Linked DNA regions of Homo sapiens. The protein of the gene in region 1 interacts with the protein of each later gene in a biochemical or structural test. Each region holds a gene or a part of one and is shown on either strand. Other genes may lie near its edges.

Region 1 (8,120 bases):
ATGTTTATCGTAATGCAACAGAAAACTCTGTTAAACTGTACACCGTAATTGGCATCTGTTAAAACAACTCCACTTTTGAACGAACAGCATTTCTCTCTCAAGATCTCTCTCTCTCTTTTGAATTTGTCAGATGGAGTTACGCAGGTTTCTCTATGATTGCTTTTGCATGCCATTTCCAAGTGGAACATGGCCAATCTTTGATAAAGTATAATAGATGAAAATCTCTGCGTGAAGAATATGCTGTAGGTTTCACACACTTTTAGTGAAAATGGATTATTTTCAACAGCACCAAGAAGTCAATGGTGACTTATTTAGCTCATTTAGAAGAAAGTCCTATAATACTCATTTGTTTAAAAAACTCTGTGGTAACAAAAGGTATATACACCGTTTACTGTACACAAAATGCATCTTTCCTGTAAACTGGTGTGTGTTCAGCACACTCCACACATGGCAATATGTTAGAATCTAGCCATCACATTTGATAGAGTTTTGATAGAAATGCATCCAATGGGAACAAACACCCCATATGTTGTAGTGTCTAAATAGAAACTCAGTGTAAAAAAGTAAAAAACAAAAATAGACAGGAAGGGAGGGAGTCATCCTTGAATAGTGATGGACCATGGACTATAACGTGATTGTGTTCATTCTTAAAGCACTACCCAGAGACCAATGGTGCCGTTGCCTTGGTGCCCGCCTGAGTCACTACGTTGCCACTGGCGTTGCTCCTGGATTTGGAAAGTCCTTGTAGACCCAGAAACTACCAAAAATCTGTGATCCTTTCCACTTTGAGTATCCTGATGCTGAAATGAAAGTTAAACACAATTTTAGAAATTGCTTTTGAATTAATAAAGAGAAAACCAGGAATGCATAATCCTAAAATGGTCCCCACCAGGAGCCTAAGAACTAAGGAAAATATAAACTCGTTCAAGAGGCACAGCAATATGTTTGTTGCAAAGCAATCTGTTAAAATATAGCAATATAGAAAAAAACTTTGTGGTTTTTGTTTATTTATCTTATTTTATTTATTTATTTTTTTGAGAGGGAGTCTCACTCTGTCGCCCAGGCTGGAGTGCAATGGCGCGATCTCAGCTCACTGCAACCTCCGTCTCCCGGGTTTAAGCCTCAGCCTCCCAAGTAGCTGGGACTACAGGCACCTGCCACCATGCCTGGCTAATTTTTATATTTTTTAGTAGAGATGGGGTTTCTCCATGTTGGCCAGGCTGGTCTCGAACTCCTAACCCCAAGTGATCTGCCCACCTCAGCTTCCCAAAGTGCTGGGATTACAGGCATGAGCTACCATGCCCAGCCAGAAAAAATTTTAAGTCCATAATACTCAAGGTACGTGGTTGGTACACAGATTTCTATATTTTTGTTTGTTTGTTTGTTTGTTTAGAGATAGGGTTTCACTACATTTTCCAAGTTGGAGTGCATGAGTGTGTTGGCTATTCACAGGTATAATCATGGTTCACTGCATCTTTGAACTCCTGGGCTCAAGCAATCCTTCTACCACAGCCTCCCACCCCAGTAGCTGGGACTACAGGCAGGTACCACCATGCCTGGCTTATTGTTTTACTCTAAAAAAACACTTTCTTTTCTTTTCTTTTTTTTTTTTTTTGTGATGGAGTCTCACTCTGTTGCCCACGCTGGAGTGCAGTGGTGTGATCTCGGCTCACTGCAACCTCTGCCTCCCAGGTTGAAGCGATTCTCCTGCCTTGGCCTCCTGAGTAGCTGAGATTACAGGCAGGATTACAGGGGCCCCCCACCACACCCGGCTAACTTTTTTTAGTAGAGACAGGGTTTCACCATGTTGGCCAGGCTGGTTTTGAGCTCCTGACCTCAAGTGATCTGCCCGCCTCGGCCTCCCATAGTGCTGGGATTACAGGCGTGAGCCACCGCACCAGCCCTTATTTTTTTACTTAAAAAATCTTATCTTTTTAAGTAAAAAAATTTTATTTTTTTAATATACACCCACATACTCACTGTGTGTGTGTATATATATATATAAATACACACACATTTATATAGCAATGCATATATATACAGAGAGGGTCACTGTATCGTATGTATACATGCAGTCGTCCCTCTGGATCCATGTGGGATTGGTTCCAGGACCGCTACACACATCCTCCTACATACTGTATATCATCTCTAGATCACTCAAAATACCTAATACAATGTAAGTGTTATGTAAGTAGCTGTTATACTGTATTGTTTTTATTATTTTTATTTTTGTACTGTTATTTAAAAAAAAATTTTTTTAGAGTATTTTTGATCCACAGTTGGTTGAATCAATCGGTGGATGTGGAACCTGCAGGTACAGAGGGTGGACTGGACATATAAAATATCTTGTCTAATATGCTGATCTAGATTTCCCACTTAATGTGGCAATGTATTAGGAATAGCTATGTTTTGATGTTCTAAAAACTAAAAACTATAGTCCTGTAGATTCTCTTCAATGAAAGCATCAAACTTACCTCAAGCAGTTTCAACATCAGCTATCAATGTTGTGATGGGCTAAAAAACAAAAAAATAAAGAAATATAATACCCCCAACAAAGCTGTGGGTGGTTTCATCACCTCTGTGCTAAGAAGCAGGCATGTGACTAAAGGTACAGACGAATATAAACCACACCTCATAAAGTTTATCAAGAAGAATGTGTCAGACAAAACACTGGTTACTCTAGCTTCTGTTTGTATTGCTTTTAAAAACAGCATAGAAGATAAAGAGGATAAACAGACTATGACAAGTAAGAATTGTGAATATTCACAATCTAAGGTTAAAAGTGTTAAGAGTCACTAAGAATACGTGTTGAAGACATTAGACCAGCAGCAACACAGCAGTACACATGTCTACCACAAGAGTCTTTCTAAAGTCCACTTCTAGGACAGAAGACAGAAGCAAATGGAAGTTCCGCAGGGACCTTGTTACAACTACAAATTCCTGGGTGTAAGATCAGGCAGTGCACACGGCCTCTAAGTGGCTCTCTGGGTGAACCATCAACAGTAGCCCTAGTGTCCTCTAAAGTGACTCTGTGATAATGGCCTTGACAACCAAAAAGGTATACGCCAGGGGGAGACTAGTGAACTCCATCTGGAAGGTCGGCAGTTTCAACTCTGGCACACCCTGCCCGACTGTGACTTCAGGTGGATCACAACCCCTCTGAACCTGCAGGATCCACCGTGCCTCACTGCAGTGCTGCATCAGACACATGAGGTTGGGGGAGGACATGCACGGAGGACATCAGGGCATCTGCCAGGCAAGACATTCCTTCTAAAGTTTTTCACTTTAGAAAGTGCACATGCTTGGTTCTGTGTGCCTCTTCTTGCACTACCTTTTATGCTTTCGGTAAAGAAACAAACTCTTTATCGAAAGGGCTCAAAGGGCCCCTGGAAAAGGGTGCAAGCAGGGGCTGGCTCAATCTCTTGTTACTGTCCACCTCACCAGGACCTGGAGCTGAACATTATGAAGGACTGTAGGCTCTGGCAATCATTTCCAAAGAACATCTACATTTGCCTTATTGAGCAGAGGGATGCTGGGCACACTAACAGGATCACTGGTTCTTCTCCTCCTGCCTAGCATTGCCTCTCCTCCAGACAGTATATCCATCCTATCCTGGAAGAGAGGGAACTCTGGAGACCTCAGAAGCAGGAAATGAGCAAAACAAGCCAATTTAAGCAGTGTCTTAGTATGTTTTCTGCTGCTATAACAGAATATCAGAGACTGGGTAACTTACAAAGAAAAAAATATGTTTTTCACAGTTCTGAAGGCCACGAAGTCCAAGAACCTGGTGCTGGCATCTGGTGAGGGCTTTCATGACGCATCATCCCATAATGGAAGGGCAAATGAGTGCAAGAGACAGACAGGGAATGGGGTCGAGCTTCCTCCTTTTATCAGGAGCCCACTCCCATGATAATGGCATTAATCCATTTATGAAGGCAGAACTCTCATGACTTAACCACCTGTCCAAGGTCTCGCCTGTTAATATAGTCACAATGGCAATTAAATCTCAACATGAGTTTTGGAGGGGACACTGAAACTATAGCAAGTAACTAAAACTAATCCTGGAAGCTCCTGATGTAAGAGAAACAAAGGGCCTTAGGTGAGACCATAACTGGAGGATACATTTCTTCAGGCCATTAGGATTTGGGCTCTGAATGATAACTTCCTGGGTGCCCAACACAATAAAGCAATAAAATAAAGAAGGCCAATACATGACATCTGAGACTCTCCTGTCTCCAGAGTAGACATCACACACTGATGACAGTACTTTTGAGTCAGTCTGGATTAAACCTCCAGATTTCAATCAACACAACACAACAGGGCTCTGAGCAGCCGGACAACAGAGAGAAGTTGGCCCAGGAGGTGGAATCTGTTTGTCAATGATGCACTATCCCCTTCACAGAAAAAGGAAGGTCCTGGCCCCCGAAGAACCTGAAACATCACACAAGGGAAGGGGCTCCAAGCACCCTCTACAAGACCTATGCAGCCAGAACCTACACAGGTGAGGGTCAGCTGCTGTTTATGTAGCATTCCCCGGGATCCACCTGCTTCCTCCTCTAGGCTGCAGAGGTGCAGCCATGCGGACCCCTCCTACTTCTATCTAAGAATCTGGCCAAGCGCAGTGGCTCATGCCTGTAATCTAGCAATTTGGGTAGATCACTTGACGTCAGGAGTTCAAGACCAGCCTGGCCAATATAGTGAAACTCCATCTCTACTAATAACAGAAAAATTAGCTGAGCACGGTGGTGTGTGCCTGTAATCCCAGCTACTCAGGAGGCTGAAGCACAAGAATCGCTTGAACCCAGGAGGTGGAGGTTGCAGTGAGCTGAGATCACACCACTGCATTCCAGCCTGTGTGACAGAGTGGAATCTGTGTCTCAAACAACAACAACAGCAAAGAATCTACAGAGCATGCACAATGAACACCATCTACAGCCGAACTAGCAAGAAGGTGGTTCACAGACATATTTTGTTGGGCCCCCATGGTGTTTTTTTCTCCACATTGTTTGCTAACATTAAAAAGGGTAATTTCATATGAAAATCAGATTTCTGTCCTTTTCAGATAGAGTTTCTAGCAACACTTGCCTCTTATTTGTTCCCCTTTCTGCCAATTTGATAGTCTTCAGAGTGAAGACTGGGAAAAATAATCAAATTTTTCTGTGGTCTTTCCACCCGTTTTGGGAACTTTTCTTTGCCCACCTGCCTTTGGGAGAATAGGAGAAATAGCTCAAATCATAGCTTGGCCCTGGCTAGCTGTAGAGACCTGGGCATGGCCTACACGTCCCTGAGTCTATCTGCAAAAGACAGACAACAAGGCGGTGACGACAGCCATAGAGGGCCGATGTGGGGACTGCGCAGGATGAGGCAGGGTGGTCATCCTGCCCGGTTCCTGGGGCTGCTGGACCAACACTGGTGTTTGTTTGCTCTCAAGCCTTTGTGGTCTCACAGGAAGCAACTTTCTCTCCTGATCTCTCATCTCAGAGCTAGAAAGAGTAAGTTTACACACACACATACAGACACACACACACAGACACACACACTCTCTCTCTTTCTCTCTCTCTCTCTCTCTCTCTCTAAAGAACTCCCTAGCAGCTGAAAGATCACAATCCGAGTGACCTCTAGTGATCCATGAAAGGCCAGGAAGAAGATTCAGAAACAAGTCACCCAATATTTCCTGAAATGAAAATGCCTCCACTTGCTCCGCAGACTGTGGGAGACAGAAGCATCGTTGGAAAAAAAAAATCCAGGCTTACGTAGGTTTATATGAAAGTCTATTAACTTTTCCTTCAAACAAAAGCAAACAGCCACAGACTGTATAATGGACTAATTACAGTGTGCGTGTGTGTGTTTAAGAAATAAATAGAAATAAAAGAAAAAGAGACCAAAAAAAACTAGTTTATGAAACTGAGTTTGCCACTCAGAAGCAGCCCACTTCATGGTTCTTATTTAAGAGAATTCTCCTGGGAAACGCTCCATGAAGCAATATTAGTTGTCAAACTGCTCCTCACTTGGTAAGTACTAGTGTCCTGGTTTGCAGAAGGCTTTTCTTTTGTTCTTACATTAAATAATTTTTTTTTTCATTTATAAACACAGGGTCTTGTTGTGTTGCCCAGGCTGGTTTTGAACTCCTGGGCTCAAGTGATCCTCTGTCCTCAGCCTCCCAAGGTGCTGGGATTAAAGGCGTGAGCCACCGCATCAGCCAGAGTCTTTTCTAGAATAGCCTAGCACCTTCTCTTTGCACTGATCATTTTCCTCCTAAACCTAGCTTTGTCCTGAAATGCAGGCAACACCTGAAAACTGTTGGCGATAAACACTGGGGGAAATCACAGTCTCAAGCTGTGTGAAGGAGGCACCAATTCGGGCTCATTTGTACAGAAGGTATCATGAGGTGTCGGCTAATATCCAGAGCCCAGTTGGTGTCATCAATGGAAGCTAAGTGGAGCTGGCTCAGCTAACAGATTAGAGCCACACTTAGTTATCTTCTGAATCACCTTTGGGTTCCTTCCATTGGAAATGTTAAGGTAATAAGAAAAGATTATGGTCATTATAGTGAACCACAAACCCTTAAGTAAGGGTTTACAGTGGTCAAAGGGTGAATGTTTTGCCTTGTTACCTCATTGAACCCTCACAACCCTACGCAAACAAGGCTCTTATTTTTATTTATTTATTGAGACGGAGTCTCACTCTGTCGTCCTGGATGGAGTGCGGTGGTGCAATCTCAGCTCACTGCAACCTCCGCCTCCCGGGTTCAAGCGATTCTCCTGCCTCAGCCTCCCAAGTAGCTGGGATTACAGGTGCCCGCCACTACGCCCAGCTAATTTTTTGTATTTTTAGTAGAGATGAGGTTTCACCATGTTGGCCAGGCTGGTCTCAAACTCCTGACCTTGTGATTTGCCTGCCTTGGCCTCCCAAAGTGCTGGGATTACAGGCGTGAGCCACCACACCCAGCCTCAAAGCTCTTATTATTCCCTCCTTCTACAAGTGAGAAAACTGAGTCTCAAGGACATTAAATAGCACTTCCACAATGACACATGGAGGCAGAGCTAGAATCCACTCCAACTCAGACCCCTGGGACCTCTAGGAGGGTCTGGGTGGAAAAGAAAGGTGTCCCAATGTCCCTAGAGTTTCTGGGATGTCATTTCCTAACCTTCTGCAAATAAACCAAATCAAAACTATGATTCTTCACTGACTGCCTGTAGACGGGCTGAACATCCAGGAGACTTGCCAGGGTTCCCACTGGAGGTGGGTGTGCAGGAATGAAAACAAGTCTCGATTTAATTGTTACCATGAAAGATGCTTCAGCGAAACTCACATAAGGTGTCACTCAGTCTTTGGGATTCTTCTCTTACTGAAACAAAACACTTCAACCCACCCTTGGAGTTCTACTATAGAACACAGAATATAGAAAGTAGAAAAAAATTCAAGTGTGCTGTGGACCGTTAAGGAAGGACGTCCAACATTAGTATATCCCTAGCCCCAGGCTTCACAGGTGTATGAAGTGCTAGGCCCTTAACAAAGACAAGTCCTTCCAATGTCTGTCGTAAGCAGAATGACCACAGAATCATCCTAAAGCTTCATTTATGTATTTAATAGAACAATGGCATTTAATCTAGTTCGAATTTCAACACTAAAAGCCCAAGATGAAATGTTCATTAGCAAGTGAGAAGAGTGGCATTTCTCAACACCGACTAGGGCTGTTTTCTAACATTTTCCTGTTTTCCATCATCATGCCTTTTTTCTTGTACAGCAAGTTAAATCCAAGAGTTATCAAGTCTTATGCTGTTCCAGCAATGTGAGTAAAAACTAGTAAATAAGGAGAGCTACGACAACCTTCTTGAGCCTAGAGAATTAAGTCTTTGACGCTACACGCAGGACATCTGTGGCACTAATAGGTGCTCGGTTATTCTCTTCTAGATGCTAGAACTGGAAGTCTACCCTCCTTTGTGGGAAAGGTCTCACGTGGTGGCATAAGACAGAAGACAGCTGACGCCTGCCTATTTCCAGCACTCAGATCTGAAGCTGGGGATTAGCCAGAGTCCAGTTGGCTGTGATGATCATGCCTAAGTGACAAAGGTCTGTGGCAGTACTGGTGTGCTGAGAGGACCCTGGCATCTCAAAGG
Region 2 (8,177 bases), on another chromosome or scaffold:
AACTGTGTCTCAAAAAAAAAAAAAAAAAAAAAAGACAAGGGCAAAAGGACCTAGTGTGAACAGGCAGGACAGAGGAATGAAAGGATGGAGAGGAAGATGAGGCTAAGCTGGGGGGTAGAAGCGGGAGGCAATTAAGAGCTGTAGAGAGCTCCTGAAATGATCCAGTCTGGCTCCAGAAAGAGTTTTAGGGACACCCTTAGCAGGCCTCCAAAGTAACCAAGAGACCAGTTGACAGAGTTAGAGAGTTGATGAAAATGAATCCAGGACTCTCAGCTGGAGTAGCCAGAGGGTACTGGTGCCACTGATCAAACCAACAGAAGAGCTAGTTCCATCTGTGGTCATGATGGGTGGGGGTGCTACCAGCAGCCAGGAGTGGGCAGAGGCCCGGGCCAGGAGCCCGCTCACATTCCCCAGAGACAGGCAAGTATGTGCTCAAGAGCATGGTGCTCTAAAGCCAAATGCATGGCTTCGATTCCCAGCTCGTACAGAAAAGCTGGAGACCTTGGGCAAGTTACCCCTGGGCCTCAGTTAAACAGGGATGCTAATAACAATCAGTCTTCACCTCATGGGGCTGATTTGAATGTTAATAAGCTGACATACCTAAGAGCTTAGAACAGTGCCAGGTACACAGTAGGTGCTCTGCAGTCGCTCCTGAGTTCCAATTGGCAAAAGTGAGGAAATAACCCTGATTCTCATCTCTAATGCCCCAAAACACTGGGCTTGTCCATCAGGAGACGACAAGTGACCTCGTTGGGCAGGTGAACCCAAGCCTTCCACGTCCTCAGACTACAACCCAGAATATGTAAGATTATCTTATCACAAGGGGATTTCAGAAGGGTCCAAATCAAAAGGTCTTTTCAAAAGACTCTAAAGTTATACTAAATTTTCATTCTTCTCTCTTAATTCTTCTTTCCAATGGCAGCTCAGAAAGATGGTTCCAAGATACTCTGAGTCTCTGCTTTCTATGTAACTGCCACTGGAATCAAACAGCTTCGCTCACCTAAGCTGGGAGTCAAATCCCAGGTTCTGACAATTACTGAGTTAAAGGCCTGATTCAATTCTGCCCCTATTGGTAGTTTAGAGGAAATACACCCAAGGGTCTTCAGGGACACTTCTCAAACTGACAGGTGGCTGCAAGGGTAGAGAAAACCTACAGGAATGACAGTTGCACACTGCAGCGCTTAATAATCGCAACTCCATAAAGTGGACAAGCCTACTGTTATTATTGCATTTCACAAAGAGAAACGGGCTGTCCAAAGAGGCTCAGGGTGCTATGGTTAATAAACCACAAGACAGAGATTACAACTCATTTCCAGATACCCTGGTTAATTCCCGTTCCACTCTGGGGGAAGAGAGATGACCCCCATTCCAAGATTGAGAGTGGTATAACTCCAACGGGGTTCCAACCCTGGTGCCCTCCTCTGGATTGAGGAAGAGTAAATTTATGCAAGGATTCAAATGTCCTGGGGTAATACCCAAAGGAGAACTCCCTGAGATTAATGACGCTCCACTGTGTATTTTAGGACTTGCCAAGAGATGATAGCCTTCCCCAAGAGTTCTTAGAAGTTGAGAAGTTACCAAGATCCTGCCAGCTCAAATCAAAGGCACGTTTTTAAGTAAACTGAATCAAGGTGCAGAGCCACATCCCAGGAATTAGAGAATAACAGCCATTTACAAACAGTAAAACCCAAGTAAATCAACCGCCTCTGCTCGCTCCTCCAGACTTGAGGCTGGGTAACTTCTGCTTTTCTTGGAGGTTCACGCGCCATCACTACATTAATATGCCTCCTATGCCCTCGGGACCGCCAGAATGGGAATATGAGCAGGTTGTCGCACAGAACGGTAATGGCAAGACATTTTCCCAAAAATGTGTTCCCATCAGATATTGAAATTCCAAGTATGTAACTGAGCAACGCTCCGTTGCCTCACAGCTCTTAAAACAACCTCCCTCCAGCTAATCCCCTCCCAACTTGTCCCCTACCTCAAATCGTAGCCCAGGCCCGGGCCAGGAGCCAATCCCCTAATCCCGGGCATTTCAGAAACTCAATTCTGAGCGCGCCCCTGGCCCTGCCCGTCCCCGGCCCCGGCCCCATCCCCACCCCCATACCCCGAGGCGGGGAATGAGAGCTTCCCGGCTTGGCCTGAGGCTCTTTCTTATGTAAATGACCCGGCCGCGGTGAGCGCTCAGCCATAGGGAGCTGCGGAGCCAGGTGGGAACAGACAGGTCGAGGCTTAAGGAAAAAAAAGCTCGTTTTCGGAAGGACATAAATCTCAAGAATCTCAAGTAATCCAGGAACGCGGCGCGTTGGCCTCTCCGAGTAACTTTTAGGGCAAACCAGAAAGTAACAACCAAAGTCCTCCCCTTACTCAGAGGCAGATCCTGAGGACACGAGGCTGGGCGGTCCCGAGGCTGATTTGGAGGGGCGGGGGTTAATGGGGGACGCCCCTCGCCGAGCCTCAGTTCCGGGCGCCACAGTTCCGGGGAGGGGGCGCGGCGGGCGGAGTTCCTCTGCCCCTTTCCTACTCCTTCCCGGGTCAGCTTCTCCTCGAGCCCACCCCCGCAGGGCCGCGGGGAAGGAGAAGGGAACCGCTCGTCTCCTACACGCGGTCCGCGAGCGCGGACGGCCCCCGGCGGCCCCACGCGGCAGCGGAGCAGCCTCCCGCAGCCACGATTCTCTCCACGTGCTCTCGCCGGAACTCGCGCTGCAGAAGGGGGCTCCCTCCCACGTGGGCGCAGCAATCCCTGACTACCTGCGGGGTGACCCGCCCCTCCAGTAACAGGGAAAAAGGGACTGGGGGAGAGAGCGTGAGCGCGTGCCGGAGCTCAGGGAGGGAGGGCGCCCGGCGGAGCGCGACCTCGGCTCCCCGCCCGCGCGCACTCGCCGGCTGTGCTTAGCGGACGTGGCTCCTGGCGCCCAGGAGTGTCCCGGCTGCCCAAACTTTTTCCGCTCCCAGGCCCGGAGTAGGGAGGAAGCGGGTCCCCGCAGGGTCGAGGAAGAGACTGATGGAGGCCAGACCACTTTGCCAGAGCCCAGCCTGCCGCCCCGCCCGCGCTGACTTACCTTCTGCACTTGGTCATGGTTGAGCTCCGTGAAGAAGTAGGCAAGCAGATGCGAGGCAATCATCCTGCCGCGGCCCGACGGCGCAGAGTTGGGAAACCGAGGCGGAGACGCGAGAGGGGAGGCGGGCGGCGCGGTCCGACTGCTTTGTGCTGGGGCTCGGCTGCCGGGCCGGGAGCTGGGAGTCCGGACGGCGCACAAAGAAGGCTACCGGCGAGGGTGCGCCCGGCTGGCGGAGGGCGCGGGTCTCCGGAGACGTGATTTTGGCGTCACAACTGCTAGAAGGCGCCTCAGTTCTCTCCTGGCGACGTGTCCGGTTGTCCCACGTCAAGGCGCTAACTTCGGCCACAGGATCACTGAGGCTCAACTTGAGAAGAATCTCAGCCCGGCTCCACTCGGGCAGTGGGACCTCTCCGATTCACAGGCGCGTGGCTCGGGCCCGCGGATTTTCTTAGCTGGGTGACACGATGTTGCCAGCGGCAGCCCGGGACTCCTGCGCCGGAGTTTCATGCAACAATGTGGCTTATTGAGGGGCTGCCGGCCCGCGGGCCTCCGGATCAGTGACGTGCGCACGCCCATTGGCTGCGCGGGGAGGGTGTGTGCGCCCACGGACCGCCCGCCGCCGTGGCGCAGCCAATCATCGCTCACGGCTCGCGGGCGCGGCCGCTCAGACACCGGAGCCGGCAGCCTGGGGAGGCGCGCCGGGGGCGGGGGGCGGGGGAGGGGCGGGGCGCCTGAGATGGGACGTGTGGTCCGTGGCTAAAGGCTGGGACGGAAAGGCGCATGAGCCACCGCCGCGTCAGGCTCGGCTATGGGTGGGGGGAGCGTGATCGCGGACCCGGGGTGTGGGGCGACTGGAAAAACGGGCCTCTGGACCAGCACACGCCCTGTGCGGAGAGACACTGTCTGGCATCTCGGGATCATGTGAGGGGCTCCCACTGCCCAGTCACACGTCTAAAGCATCCTAGTTCTTACCTATTGTAGCACGGCCGGAAAGTGAGCCGCCTTAGCTGCTGATTGTACTAGAGCAGGCAATACAAGAGTCGGCCCATCCTCAAAACCACTGATAGGATGTGAGTTTCACTAACCCCGTTTTACAGATGAGGAAATTGAGGCAAGGCCAGGGCTCACACCTGTAATCCCAGCACTTTGGGAGTCCAAGGTTGGAGGGTTGCTTGAGACCAGGAGTTCATGACCAGCCTGGGCGACATAGTGAGACCCCCATCTTCCCAAATAAAAATAAATAAATCAGCCGGACATGGTGGCATGTGCCTGTAGTCCCTGCTGCTCAGAAGGCTAAGGTGGAAGGATAGCTTGAGCCCAGGAGTTCGAGGCTGCAGTGAGCTATGATCATACCACTGTACTCCAGCCTAGGTGACAGAGGGAGACCCTGTCTCAAAAAGAAAAGAGACTTACACGAGGTCACATAGCTAATAAGTGGCAGATAGGGAAGAGAACCCTTGTCCCTCTACTTTAAGGCCCTATTCGCTTGCCCCATTATCCCATGCTGCCTCTCTAAGAGCCAGAGAAGTAGGAGGTAGAAAAAGAGCATCTCTGCAGCTCTGGGACTGATGATGTGAATGAACTGGGTAGATGGTAAGTGTGTAACTGGGTGATCTTGGACATGGGATGGGGTGGGTGAGGAGGCTTACCAATGCTGAGAGGAGTGGAAGCTCCAACCCCAGCTAATGCTAGACACCAGACTCCAAATTTAAACACACAGTGGAAACTGGCAAGAATGAAATACTGACTTCAATACAGATTTCAAGAGACATGACATTAGCACTGGTGGAGAATGGCAAGCCTAAGGTTGGAAAAGGTTCAGGGAAGGAAGATGAAGGTCTGCCATGTTCTACTGAGGAGGAGTTTTTCAAACAGTGGGGTGCTGTCTGCAATGTGTACAGCCTTAAAATTATTATATAAGTAATCAATACTCATTGTTGAAAAATAATATATGGATAAACAGGAAAAATAAACAAAAATCATAATCCATCTAGCCTCTCAGCAAAACTTCCTTTTTTTTTTTTTTAAAGCAGGGACTCGATATGTTGCCCAGGCTGGTCTTGAACTCCTGGGCTCAAGCAGTCCTCCCACTTCAGCGTCCCAAATAGCTGGGATTACAGATGTGCTCAGCAAAACTTCTTGAGAACTATGTACCCTTCTAAATGCACGTCCTCAACCCTCCTTCCCTATACTCCACACAGAATTGAGCTCAAACTGCTTTTGTCATAGTCATCATAATGACCTACATGTTGCCAAATCTTGCATTCTCTTCTCTTCCCTGCCCTTGTCTTACTCCTTCTCTCAGGGATGTTGAGGACAGTTAATCACATCCTCCATCTGGACACACCTTCCTCTCTCAGTAAGAGCACCAGTGCTCCACTCTGAGGGTTTCTGGCTAACCTCACTCCCCAGGCTCCTGAGTCCCTGTTTGCTCTATTGGTAAATGCTGGGGTATTCGGGGCTGCCCTCCACCCTCTTCTCTGAACTAGTTACAGTTTCAAACTCCCTGAGGAGAAACTAACTTCCTAGCCCCATGACTGTTATATCATATGCATGCTGATGACTCACCATAGTAAATCTACAGCGAGGTCCTCTCCTGGAGTTGCAGGCTTATTTCTCCAGCTTGCCATTTGTCATCTCCACTGAAGTGACTAGCATATCACACTTAACATGTCCAAAGCTGAACTCAACTTTTTTTCCCAAATCTTTTTCTTTCCCAGTTGTCTCAGCAAATGGCATCGCCATCCACCCTAACTCGTCTTCGATTCCTTCTTGCCACTCACCCTCACAGCCAGTCAATCCATCAGCAAGCAGTTAATTCCACCTATAAAACAGACCGTGCATCTGACCACTTATCTCCATGCCCTTAGACACCTCCTGAGATCTTCCCACAGAATACTGCTTGGCATTCACACTAGCATGCTTTCCTCAAAAATACAAACTCTTTCTCACCCAAGGGTCTTTGCTCTTCCTTTTCCTTCTATCTAGAATATTCTTCTCCAGGCCTGTCTCCAACTCATTCTTCCTCCTCATTGACGTTCCACTCAGATACCTCCTCATGATGCAGGGCAGGCAGGCCCCAAAATTTGGACTTAGCCTGGGAAGATTTTTGGCTTCACCCAGTAAAGAATTCAAGGGATGCCGGGCGCGGTGGCTCACACCTGTAATCCCAGCACTTTGGGAGGCTGAGGTGGACGGATCACGAGGTCAGGAGATCGAGACCATCCTAGCTAACACGGTGAAACCCCATCTCTACTAAAAAAAAAAAAAATACAAAAAATTAGGCGTGGTGGCGGGCTCCTGTAGTCCCAGCTACTCGGGAGGCTGAGGCAGGAGAATGGCGTGAACCCGGGAGGCGGAGCTTGCAGTGAGCCGAGATCGCGCCACTGCACTCCAGCCTGGGCAACAGAAAGAGACTCCATTTCAAAAAAAAAAAAAAATTCAAGGGCAAGCAGGTGGCATTAGACAGCAGCTTATATTGAAGTGGCAGTGTACATCAGGAGCAGAGGCACTGGTCTTTGCAGAGCAGGGCTACCCCATAAGGCCGTGTGCCCAGAGTAGCAGCTCAGAGGCAGCTCTGCACTCATATTTCTACCCACTTTTAGTTAACATGCAAATTAAGGGGCAGGTTATACAGAAATTTCTAGAAAAAGGTTGGTAACGGGTTGTTGAGTCATTGCCATGGAAAGGGGCAGTGACTTCTAGGTGTTAAATCTGGAACTCTAATCTAGAGTCTGGTCCCGAGTCTTAGCCCCCACCTCCAGAGTCAAGTCCCCACCTTCTACCTCATCAGGCTTTCCTTGACCAGTTTATCTCAAATAGTTCCCCAAGTCACTATCACTTGGCCCTAGTTGATTTCCTATTTATTTTCGCTATGTTCTTCCTCTCCTCAATAGATGATAAGCTAAAAGACAGCAGGGTCTGTGTCTGTCATTCCTTCAAGTTTGCAGTGCCTAAAATGGTGCCTGACGCATGGCAGACATGCAATAAACATTTATTGAATGAATTCATAGAAGAATCTTAGAGATGACTACTGTTCACATGTTGTGTAACAATACACACACACATAGAGTTTATAGTTTTATATATTATTTCCCAAATCTTTTCCCATTTCTCTGTCTACCCTAGATCATATGCCCAGTTATCTCTCACCTGACTGGAACAGCCTCATAACTGGGCTTCCCTCTTCAGATATAGACACCATAAATATATAGACTTAGATATTTAACAAAGATTCTTTGTTTGTTTGTTGTTTGTTTTTTGTTTTTTTTAGATAGGGTCTTGCTCTATCGCCCAGGCTGGGGTGCAGTGGCACAATCTCGGCTCACTGCCACCTCCGCCTCCTGGGTTCAAGCGATTCTCCTGCCTCAGCCTCCCAAATAGCTGAAATTATAGGCACTCACCACCATGTCCAGCTAATTTTTATATTTTTAGTAGAGACAGGGTTTTGACATGTTGGCCAGGCTGGTCTCAAACTCCTAACCTCAAGTGATCGCCCATCTCAGCTTCCCAAAGTGCTGGGATTATAGACATGAGGCACCACACCTGGCCCCAAGATTCTCAAAGCAGGAAATTATACAATCGCGTTTGCTTTTTTAGGGCCATAACTGCCCTCCATGTGGATGGGGAGGGAAAGAGGTCAGAGACCAAAGGCAGAAAGAGGCAGAAGCTATAAGGTAAGACTAGGACCTAAGCCAAGATGAGAGTGGGGCAGGGAGGAAGGTTATGGGTTTAGGTATTGTGAAGTCAGAGGTGGAACTGATGGATTTGGCTGGGGTGGGTGAAGGAAAATGAAGAGGAGGATGCCTGCTGCCTAGAATCGGATGGAAATTCAATAGCCTGGTGCTACAAAATGTATTGTCTCCAGGCAGGTAGAACCAAAGCCAGTGGGGTTGGGTCAGCTATGATACTTTCTTCACACACTAGTTTTAATGCCTCTTCTCCACTCCCCTCTGTGGTCCCATTTCATGTGAACCGGATAATAATCATAAGGAACTTTAAGTACATGTTATCTCTTACAAAGTTCCCAGTAATCCTGGGAGGTGGTTGGAATCAGTATTGTTATAGGCCAGGCACAGTGGCTCATGCCTGTAATCCCAGCACTTTGAGAGGCCG
Region 3 (6,532 bases), on another chromosome or scaffold:
GGCTGAGTGACCCTCACAGTGGGTCTGCCCAGACCCAGTGCAAAGGCAGAAGGCTGGGGGGAGTGTTGAGGCCCTGGCCATGAGAATGGCCTCTCAGCTGCCACCGATCAGGATTCCCCTCACCCATCAGTGTGAAGGGTTGGATGGCTTATTTATGTCCAAATTCCTGCGGCAGGTGTTCAGTGTCGTCTGGGGTGAGGTTGGAGGGAACCTGCCTGGTGTGGGAGCTGGGGTCATGATGGGAGAGGGGGCTGACTACAGGGGCCACACACAGACAGCACATTTGTCCTGGCAGGTTGGCTGGTCTGCCAAATGCATGTACCATCTCCAAAGGAGGTCTCAGGGGGACAAAATCTTCTCAGAGGACACTACTGGGGGTCTGTGAGGTGGTCTGGGGAATAGCATCCTTTTTTTGAGATGGGGTCTTGCTCTGTGGCCCAGACTGGAGTGCAGTGGCACGATCATAGATCACTGCAACCTCAACATCCAGGGCCCAAGTGATCCTCCTGCCTTGGCCTCCCAAAGTGTTGAGATAACAGGTGGCACCTGGCCTGAGAGGAGTATTTTTATGTCCCCAAACCACAAATTTGCCCACATGGATGCATCCGTCCCACGTGCTCCATTTCCACATTGCCTGTAGGGCAGCTCATGTCTGCAGATTGAGTAGCAGTCCTGGGTCCAGACAAGCCAAGCACCCACTCCAGGGACCGACTCGGGTAGCACATGAGGTATACTGACCTCCTGACAAGCCCTGAGCAATTCTGTGACCTCTGTACCTCAGTATCCCCATCCGAAACTGGAGATGACAACTCTTGCATGAGATTGTTGTGAGGATTACGTATCAATATTTGGAAAATATTTTGGAAAAAACTGGGCATGCCATTGGTGCTTGGAATCGTGCCTGGCACACAGAGGGTGCTTTCAAAGCACTTAGAACAGCAGTACCCAGCCCACAGCTGGTGCTCACTAACCACTCAGAGCTGCACCCATCACACATCTGGCCTTTGATAAGAACACAGAACACAGGCACAAAACTGGTGCTTAGTTAAGTCCATGGAGGAAAAAACCACACTGCTGAGTGGGGAGCAGACTGGTGCTTTATATATACACACACACAGCAGAAGGTACAGGGCCTCAATAAGAAAATACACTCTGTGTTCAGGTGAACCCCCATCACCACCCACGCAGAACACTCTGGGCTGAGGAGAGGGAAGGGCACGACCATAAATAAAGACTAGAAGGGAGGGTCACTGCTGGAAGGGCAAACACAGGCGGGGCGCGCACTGCTAGGAGGAGACACGACCTGTTCTTTCCCGGGAGAGAGCGATGCAGCGGCACAGGAGAACAGTAGCCACGACTAAGCCTGCAATGCCTGGCGGGGGCACCTAACACGAATAAGAGAAGCGGGGCGGACACGAGAAGCGAGATTGCAGAGAGGGCTTTTTTTTTTTTTTTTCTGTGGCAGGACCCAGGGCTCTCAATTAACATCCATGAACTCAGAGCTGGGTGGGGAGCTGCAGGCAGGGGAGGCTGGGGCGCCAGATGAGCCGGCCGGGGACAGCAGGCGTCGCGCCACGTCCTGGCGTTGGTAGAAGAGGACATAGGCTGCCTTGGACTGTGGGGAGAGGACAGGAGTCAGTGTGGATTGTGGGGGTGGGGAGGTGGAATCAGAAAGGAAGAAGGGGAGGAGGTAGGATGGAAGTCACACCTCGATCTGATTCTCATTGACAGGGGAGACGCTGTTGTCATCAAAGTAGTGCCACTGGCCGCTGTCCTTGTTGCAGGCAAATGTTGTGTCTGAAAGGGAAGGAGAGTTATCCTCGCCTACCCTTCCTGCCTCTCAGAAGTGTCCAGATTCACTCTTGTCACTCCTCCCACCACGATAACCTCACCACTGGCTCACATCCCTAGTCACTCACTGGGAAGGTCCTGATCGCCCCCCTGCCCAGAACCCCCAGGGCAGGCCCCACCCACAGCCTGGCACATACAGTGTCCATCACGCATGCCCCCATAATGGTTGGAAACCGCGATGAGGTCATATTTGTACAGCTCCGGATTCGACTCATTCTGTGGCTGGATGACAAACTCAGAGAAGTCCAGGTCCCTGTGGGTGGGGAGAGGGTTAATACTGGTACACCCCCTCCTTTCCCTGCCTTCCCCCAGCCATCCTCTCCCTGGCCCCTGACCGGATAGGAAACTCCACGAGGGTGTCCAGCTTCTCTCGGGAGAACTTGGTGTAGGAAAAGCGTTTCAGGTGGATGATGAGAATCTCCGGCAGCATCCACAGGTCCAGCTTCTTGGTTGCCAGCTGGTGCTGCTTGCAGGAAGGGCAGTACCTACAGACAGAGCCCGAGTCAGCAAACGGACTTTTTCTTTTTTTTTTTTTTGAGACAGAGAATCGCTCTGTTGCCCAGGCTGGAGTACAGTGGCGCGATCTCGGATCACTGCAGCCTCCACCTCCTGGGTTCAAGCGATTCTCCTGCCTCAGCCTCCCGAGTAGCTGGAATTACAGGCATGCACCACCATGCCCTGCTAATTTGTGTATTTTTAATAGAGACAGGGTTTCACCATGTTGGCCAGGCTGGCCTTGAATTCCTGACCTCAGGTGATCCACCCGTGTCGGCCTCCCAAGGTACTCGGATGACAGGCATGAGCCACAATGCCCAGCCAAAACAGACTTTTTCTGAGCACCTACTGTGCGCCCTTTGTACTGCCTCTCACGTGCCATGTCTGGCTCACAGAAACACTGCTCTTACTATTAGCCCATCTAGTATTCTAGTTTGCTCTGTTCCTGTTAAAATCCTTTCACTCACTCGTCAAGTGCTTACTATCTTTTGTATATGTGCTCATACTATTTTTTGTATTTTTGTTTGATTTCTGTTCCATGAGATGCTAGTCTTATTTTAGAGCCCACCTCTATCCTTCTAGTTTCCTCTCTTCGTATTTTAGTCATTCATTCACTCCCCAGTATTTATTGATTGCTTGTTTAACCCTTTGGAACTATTTTGTATTTCTGTTCCATTTCTGCTCCACGGACATGCTGCTCTTATTTCTGAGACTAGGGAGTGTGGTTTTGGTTCTCTTTTTGTTTATTCTGCAAGTGTCTACTGAGCATCAACCGAACACTCAACACTATTATAAACAGGTAGAAGCAACACACAGTGAACTTAAGTCTTCACCCTCGAGGAGTTGACTCTAACGAAGATGACAAATAACACAAAAGTGGATACAGGACATCACATCAAGTGGCATCGCTGAGCTAGAAAGTAATGCTTGGCTAGGAAGAAAAGAGCAGAGAGGGGATGGAGAGGGATGGTGGGGAAGGGTGATTTTTAACAGGGTAGTCAGAGGAGGTCTCTCTGATGAGGTCACATTTGATCGGAGACCTGAGCATCGTAAGGAGTGAAGTCCTGTAGATCACTGGGAACAACATTCCTGGAGAAGGAACAGCACAGGCCAAGGCTCTGGGGTAGGAGTCTGCTCAGGAGATTGGTGGCCAGGTTGGCAAGAAGGGTTTGAGTGTGGAGGAGGGAGGAGGAAGGTATACTTAAAGAGCTAAATATAGGCCAGGTGTGGTGGCTCACGCCTGTAATCCCAGCACTTTGGAAGGCCAAGGCGGGTGGATCATCTTTAGTCAGGAGTTCGAGACCAGCCTGGCCAACGTGGCAAAACCTGTTTCTACTAAAAATATAAAAATTAGCCAGGCATGGTAGTGGGTGCCTATAATCCCAGCTACTCAGGAGACTTAGGCAGGAGAACAGCTTGATCCTGGGAGGCAGAGGTTGCACTGAGCCGAGATTGTACCACTGCACTTCAGCCTGGGTTGACAGAGCCAGACTCTGTCTCAAAAAAAAAAAAAAAAAGCTAAATATAGTAGTTCCATCCAATGAAACCCCCACACACAGGCCCCGCTCTGGCCCCTCACCAGGGGTTTTCCTTCTCCAGGGTCTCCACAGTGGTGAAGAGCTCAATGCACTCCTGCAGCCGCACGGGAGCCTTCTTCATCACGTACCCGACGCAGTCATGCTTCACGTAGCCCTAGGATTGGGTGAACAGACAACCAGATGGCCGGCTGTGAGGACAGATGGAGAAATGGGGAGTGGGGGCCCAGCGGGGGAGACACACACTGAGTGGGTCAGAGCACCGACTTTGAAGCTAGGAACCTCAGGCCCTGGAGCTCTCAGTAGGTGTTCAGGCCCCAAGGCCAAGCTTGACCTGGATCTCTTGGCTCTGTTCCCAGCTAGAGGAGTTGTGGGGAGGATGTACGAAGAGTTGAGGGGCAAGAGCTGGAAGTACCCCCCATCCCTGGGATCTCATTTACCTCAGCCTCTACCTCGTCATAGTAACGCTTCTTCATCTCTGGCTCCCAGTCGATAGCAATGTACGGCTGGGCTGGGGGTGAGGGAGAGGTGGTCATGGATCCTGCTGCCAGGAAATCTCCCCTCCAGCCTCCCCAGCCCTCGCTGATAGCCAAAGGAAATACCATGGACTTCTTCAGGGGAGGTTGTGCGGTCGCTGGTCCCATTGGAGTTCACCGTCTGCAGGGTGAACAGCTGCTTGCGTCGTCGCCTTGGGGGCCACTGAGATGTGCCAAGGCAATTGTCCAGGAGGAACGGGCACCTGTTCGTGACTCCAGAGCTGGGCCCAGCCTGCTCTGGCTCAGGGTCTCGGAGGCTGCCCCCAGTTGAGGGCCCAGGGACGTCATCTTTATCCTCCTCGTCATCTTCTAGGACAGGAGGATGTCAGAGATGGGAAGGTGTGAGCCTCAAGTGCTAAGCTGCAATGCACACCTAGACGAACCCTACGTGGGTCAGACCTAACCCAGAGCCCCCGCCCACTGACTGTTAGCCCCCTCACCTTTCTCATCCCCATCGTCCTCATCATCTGAGTTGGGTTTGGTCACGTAGCGTCTGCAACAGAGCAGAGGAGACTCCCAAGACGGGTACAAGGACAGTGGGGATAGAGCCCGGGATTTTACTTAAGATAATGGGAAGCCATTGGTAGATCCACATGTAAACCGTTCTGAATCTGAGGTGTGAGAGGGCTGAAGGGGTGACGCGTAAATGCATGAAGAGGCCAAGGCTGTCAGCAGTGGCCTGAGAATGAAGGAACTTGTGTCCCAGTCAGAGGTGTGGAGTGTGATTAGCTGGGCGTGGTGGCGCGCGGCTGTAATTGCAGCTATTTGGGAGGCTGAGGCAGGAGAATCGCTTGAATCCGGGAGATGGAGGTTGCAGTGAGCCAAGATCATGTCACTACACTCCAGCCTGGGCAACAGAGCAAGACTCCATCTCAAAAAAAAAAAAAAAAAAAGGTATGGAGCGTGGACTTTTACTCTAATAAGCCACTGCTAGACAAGACACATACCGGCTGTAACTTCCCATCAGGGAAAGCCTCTGGGGAATGACTTTTGAATGCAAAATGAGGGGGGAGAATTCTGATAACACAATGCTTTGTGTGCCACAGTAAAGACTCTAGATTTTAGGCAAAATGAAAATTTGTCAGCAAAAAGACAAAAAAACCAAGACTCTCCCAGGAGGGACAACAGTCTCCAGGAGAGACAACTGAAGACAAGATGAAGTTGTCTGTTTTGTGCATCTTGTTCACCTCTGTATCCCTAGCACCCAAGACAGGCAGTAGCAAAGCCAGAGGTCTAGAGAAAGAAAAAACCCTACAAGTTCTTCTATGGCCATGTTAAGTTTGGACTGTCTTTTGTTTGTTACAGGGGAGGTGTCAAATAAGCAGCTAAACACCCAAGTCGGAGTTCAGACCCCTCCGCCCCCCACCCCCGGGGAAGAGGACACTTACGAGAGCCGGTACATCAGGACGTTATACAGGCCCTCCCAGGTGAAGCGGTCCCGGGGCACTGATACCAGGAGGGGGTGTCCAAAAAGCATCAGGCCGTAGTAGGAGTTGTTGTAGTCACGGGCAGGGGTGCGCTCCCGCAGGTAGACAGGAACCACGATGTCCTCTCTTGAGCCCTCAATGGCCTCAATGCGACCTGACACCTCATAGCTGTGGGGGGTGGACAGCAGGCACACCTGATCAGGGCCCCCAGAGACTCCCTGACTCTGCCCTGGCTGCCCCACCCACTCATCCTCACAGCCTGAAGGCATTTTTATTTTTATTTATTTATTTATTTATTTTTGAGACGGAGTCTCGCTCTGTTGCCCAGGCTGCAGTGCAGTGGCACGATCTCGGCTCACTGCAAGCTCCGCCTCCCGGGTTCATGCCATTCTCCTGCCTCAGCCTCCCGAGTAGCTGGGACTACAGGCACCTGCCACCACGCCCGGCTAATTTTTTGTATTTTTAGTAGAGACGGGGTTTCACCGTGTTAGCCAGGATGGTCTCCATCTCCTGACCTCGTGATCTGCCTGCTTCAGCCTCCCAAAGTGCTGGGATTACAGGCGTGAGCCACCGCGCCCGGCTTTATTTATTTTTGAGATGGAGTTTTGCCCTGTCGCCCAGACTGGAGTGCAGTGGCGTGATCTTGGCTCACTTGAACCTCTCGGGTTCAAGTGATTCTCCTGCCTCA

Evidence for each region. Proteins that work in one complex are often made in the same cells at the same time.
Region 2: the proteins of PROM1 (region 1) and HK2 form a complex in vitro, tested with the Homo sapiens proteins (one study listed by BioGRID).
Region 3: the proteins of PROM1 (region 1) and USP11 form a complex in vitro, tested with the Homo sapiens proteins (one study listed by BioGRID).

What each region holds. Positions count from the first base shown.
Region 1 is NC_000004.12:15,968,569-15,976,688, forward strand, and holds part of PROM1 (prominin-1 isoform 1 precursor), read right to left. Parts: intron 2,515-8,120; coding exon 2,499-2,514; 3' UTR 2,475-2,498; intron 801-2,474; 3' UTR 1-800. UniProt on the Homo sapiens protein: May play a role in cell differentiation, proliferation and apoptosis. Binds cholesterol in cholesterol-containing plasma membrane microdomains and may play a role in the organization of the apical plasma membrane in epithelial cells.
Region 2 is NC_000002.12:74,829,529-74,837,705, reverse strand, and holds the start of HK2 (hexokinase-2), read right to left. Parts: upstream 3,580-8,177; 5' UTR 3,126-3,579; coding exon 3,063-3,125; intron 2,537-3,062; exon of another isoform or gene 2,368-2,536; intron 1-2,367. UniProt on the Homo sapiens protein: Catalyzes the phosphorylation of hexose, such as D-glucose and D-fructose, to hexose 6-phosphate (D-glucose 6-phosphate and D-fructose 6-phosphate, respectively).
Region 3 is NC_000023.11:47,242,876-47,249,407, reverse strand, and holds the end of USP11 (ubiquitin carboxyl-terminal hydrolase 11), read right to left. Parts: intron 6,013-6,532; coding exon 5,806-6,012; intron 4,911-5,805; coding exon 4,858-4,910; intron 4,727-4,857; coding exon 4,484-4,726; intron 4,393-4,483; coding exon 4,322-4,392; intron 4,039-4,321; coding exon 3,926-4,038; intron 2,337-3,925; coding exon 2,187-2,336; intron 2,105-2,186; coding exon 1,989-2,104; intron 1,798-1,988; coding exon 1,709-1,797; intron 1,616-1,708; coding exon 1,478-1,615; 3' UTR 1,080-1,477; downstream 1-1,079.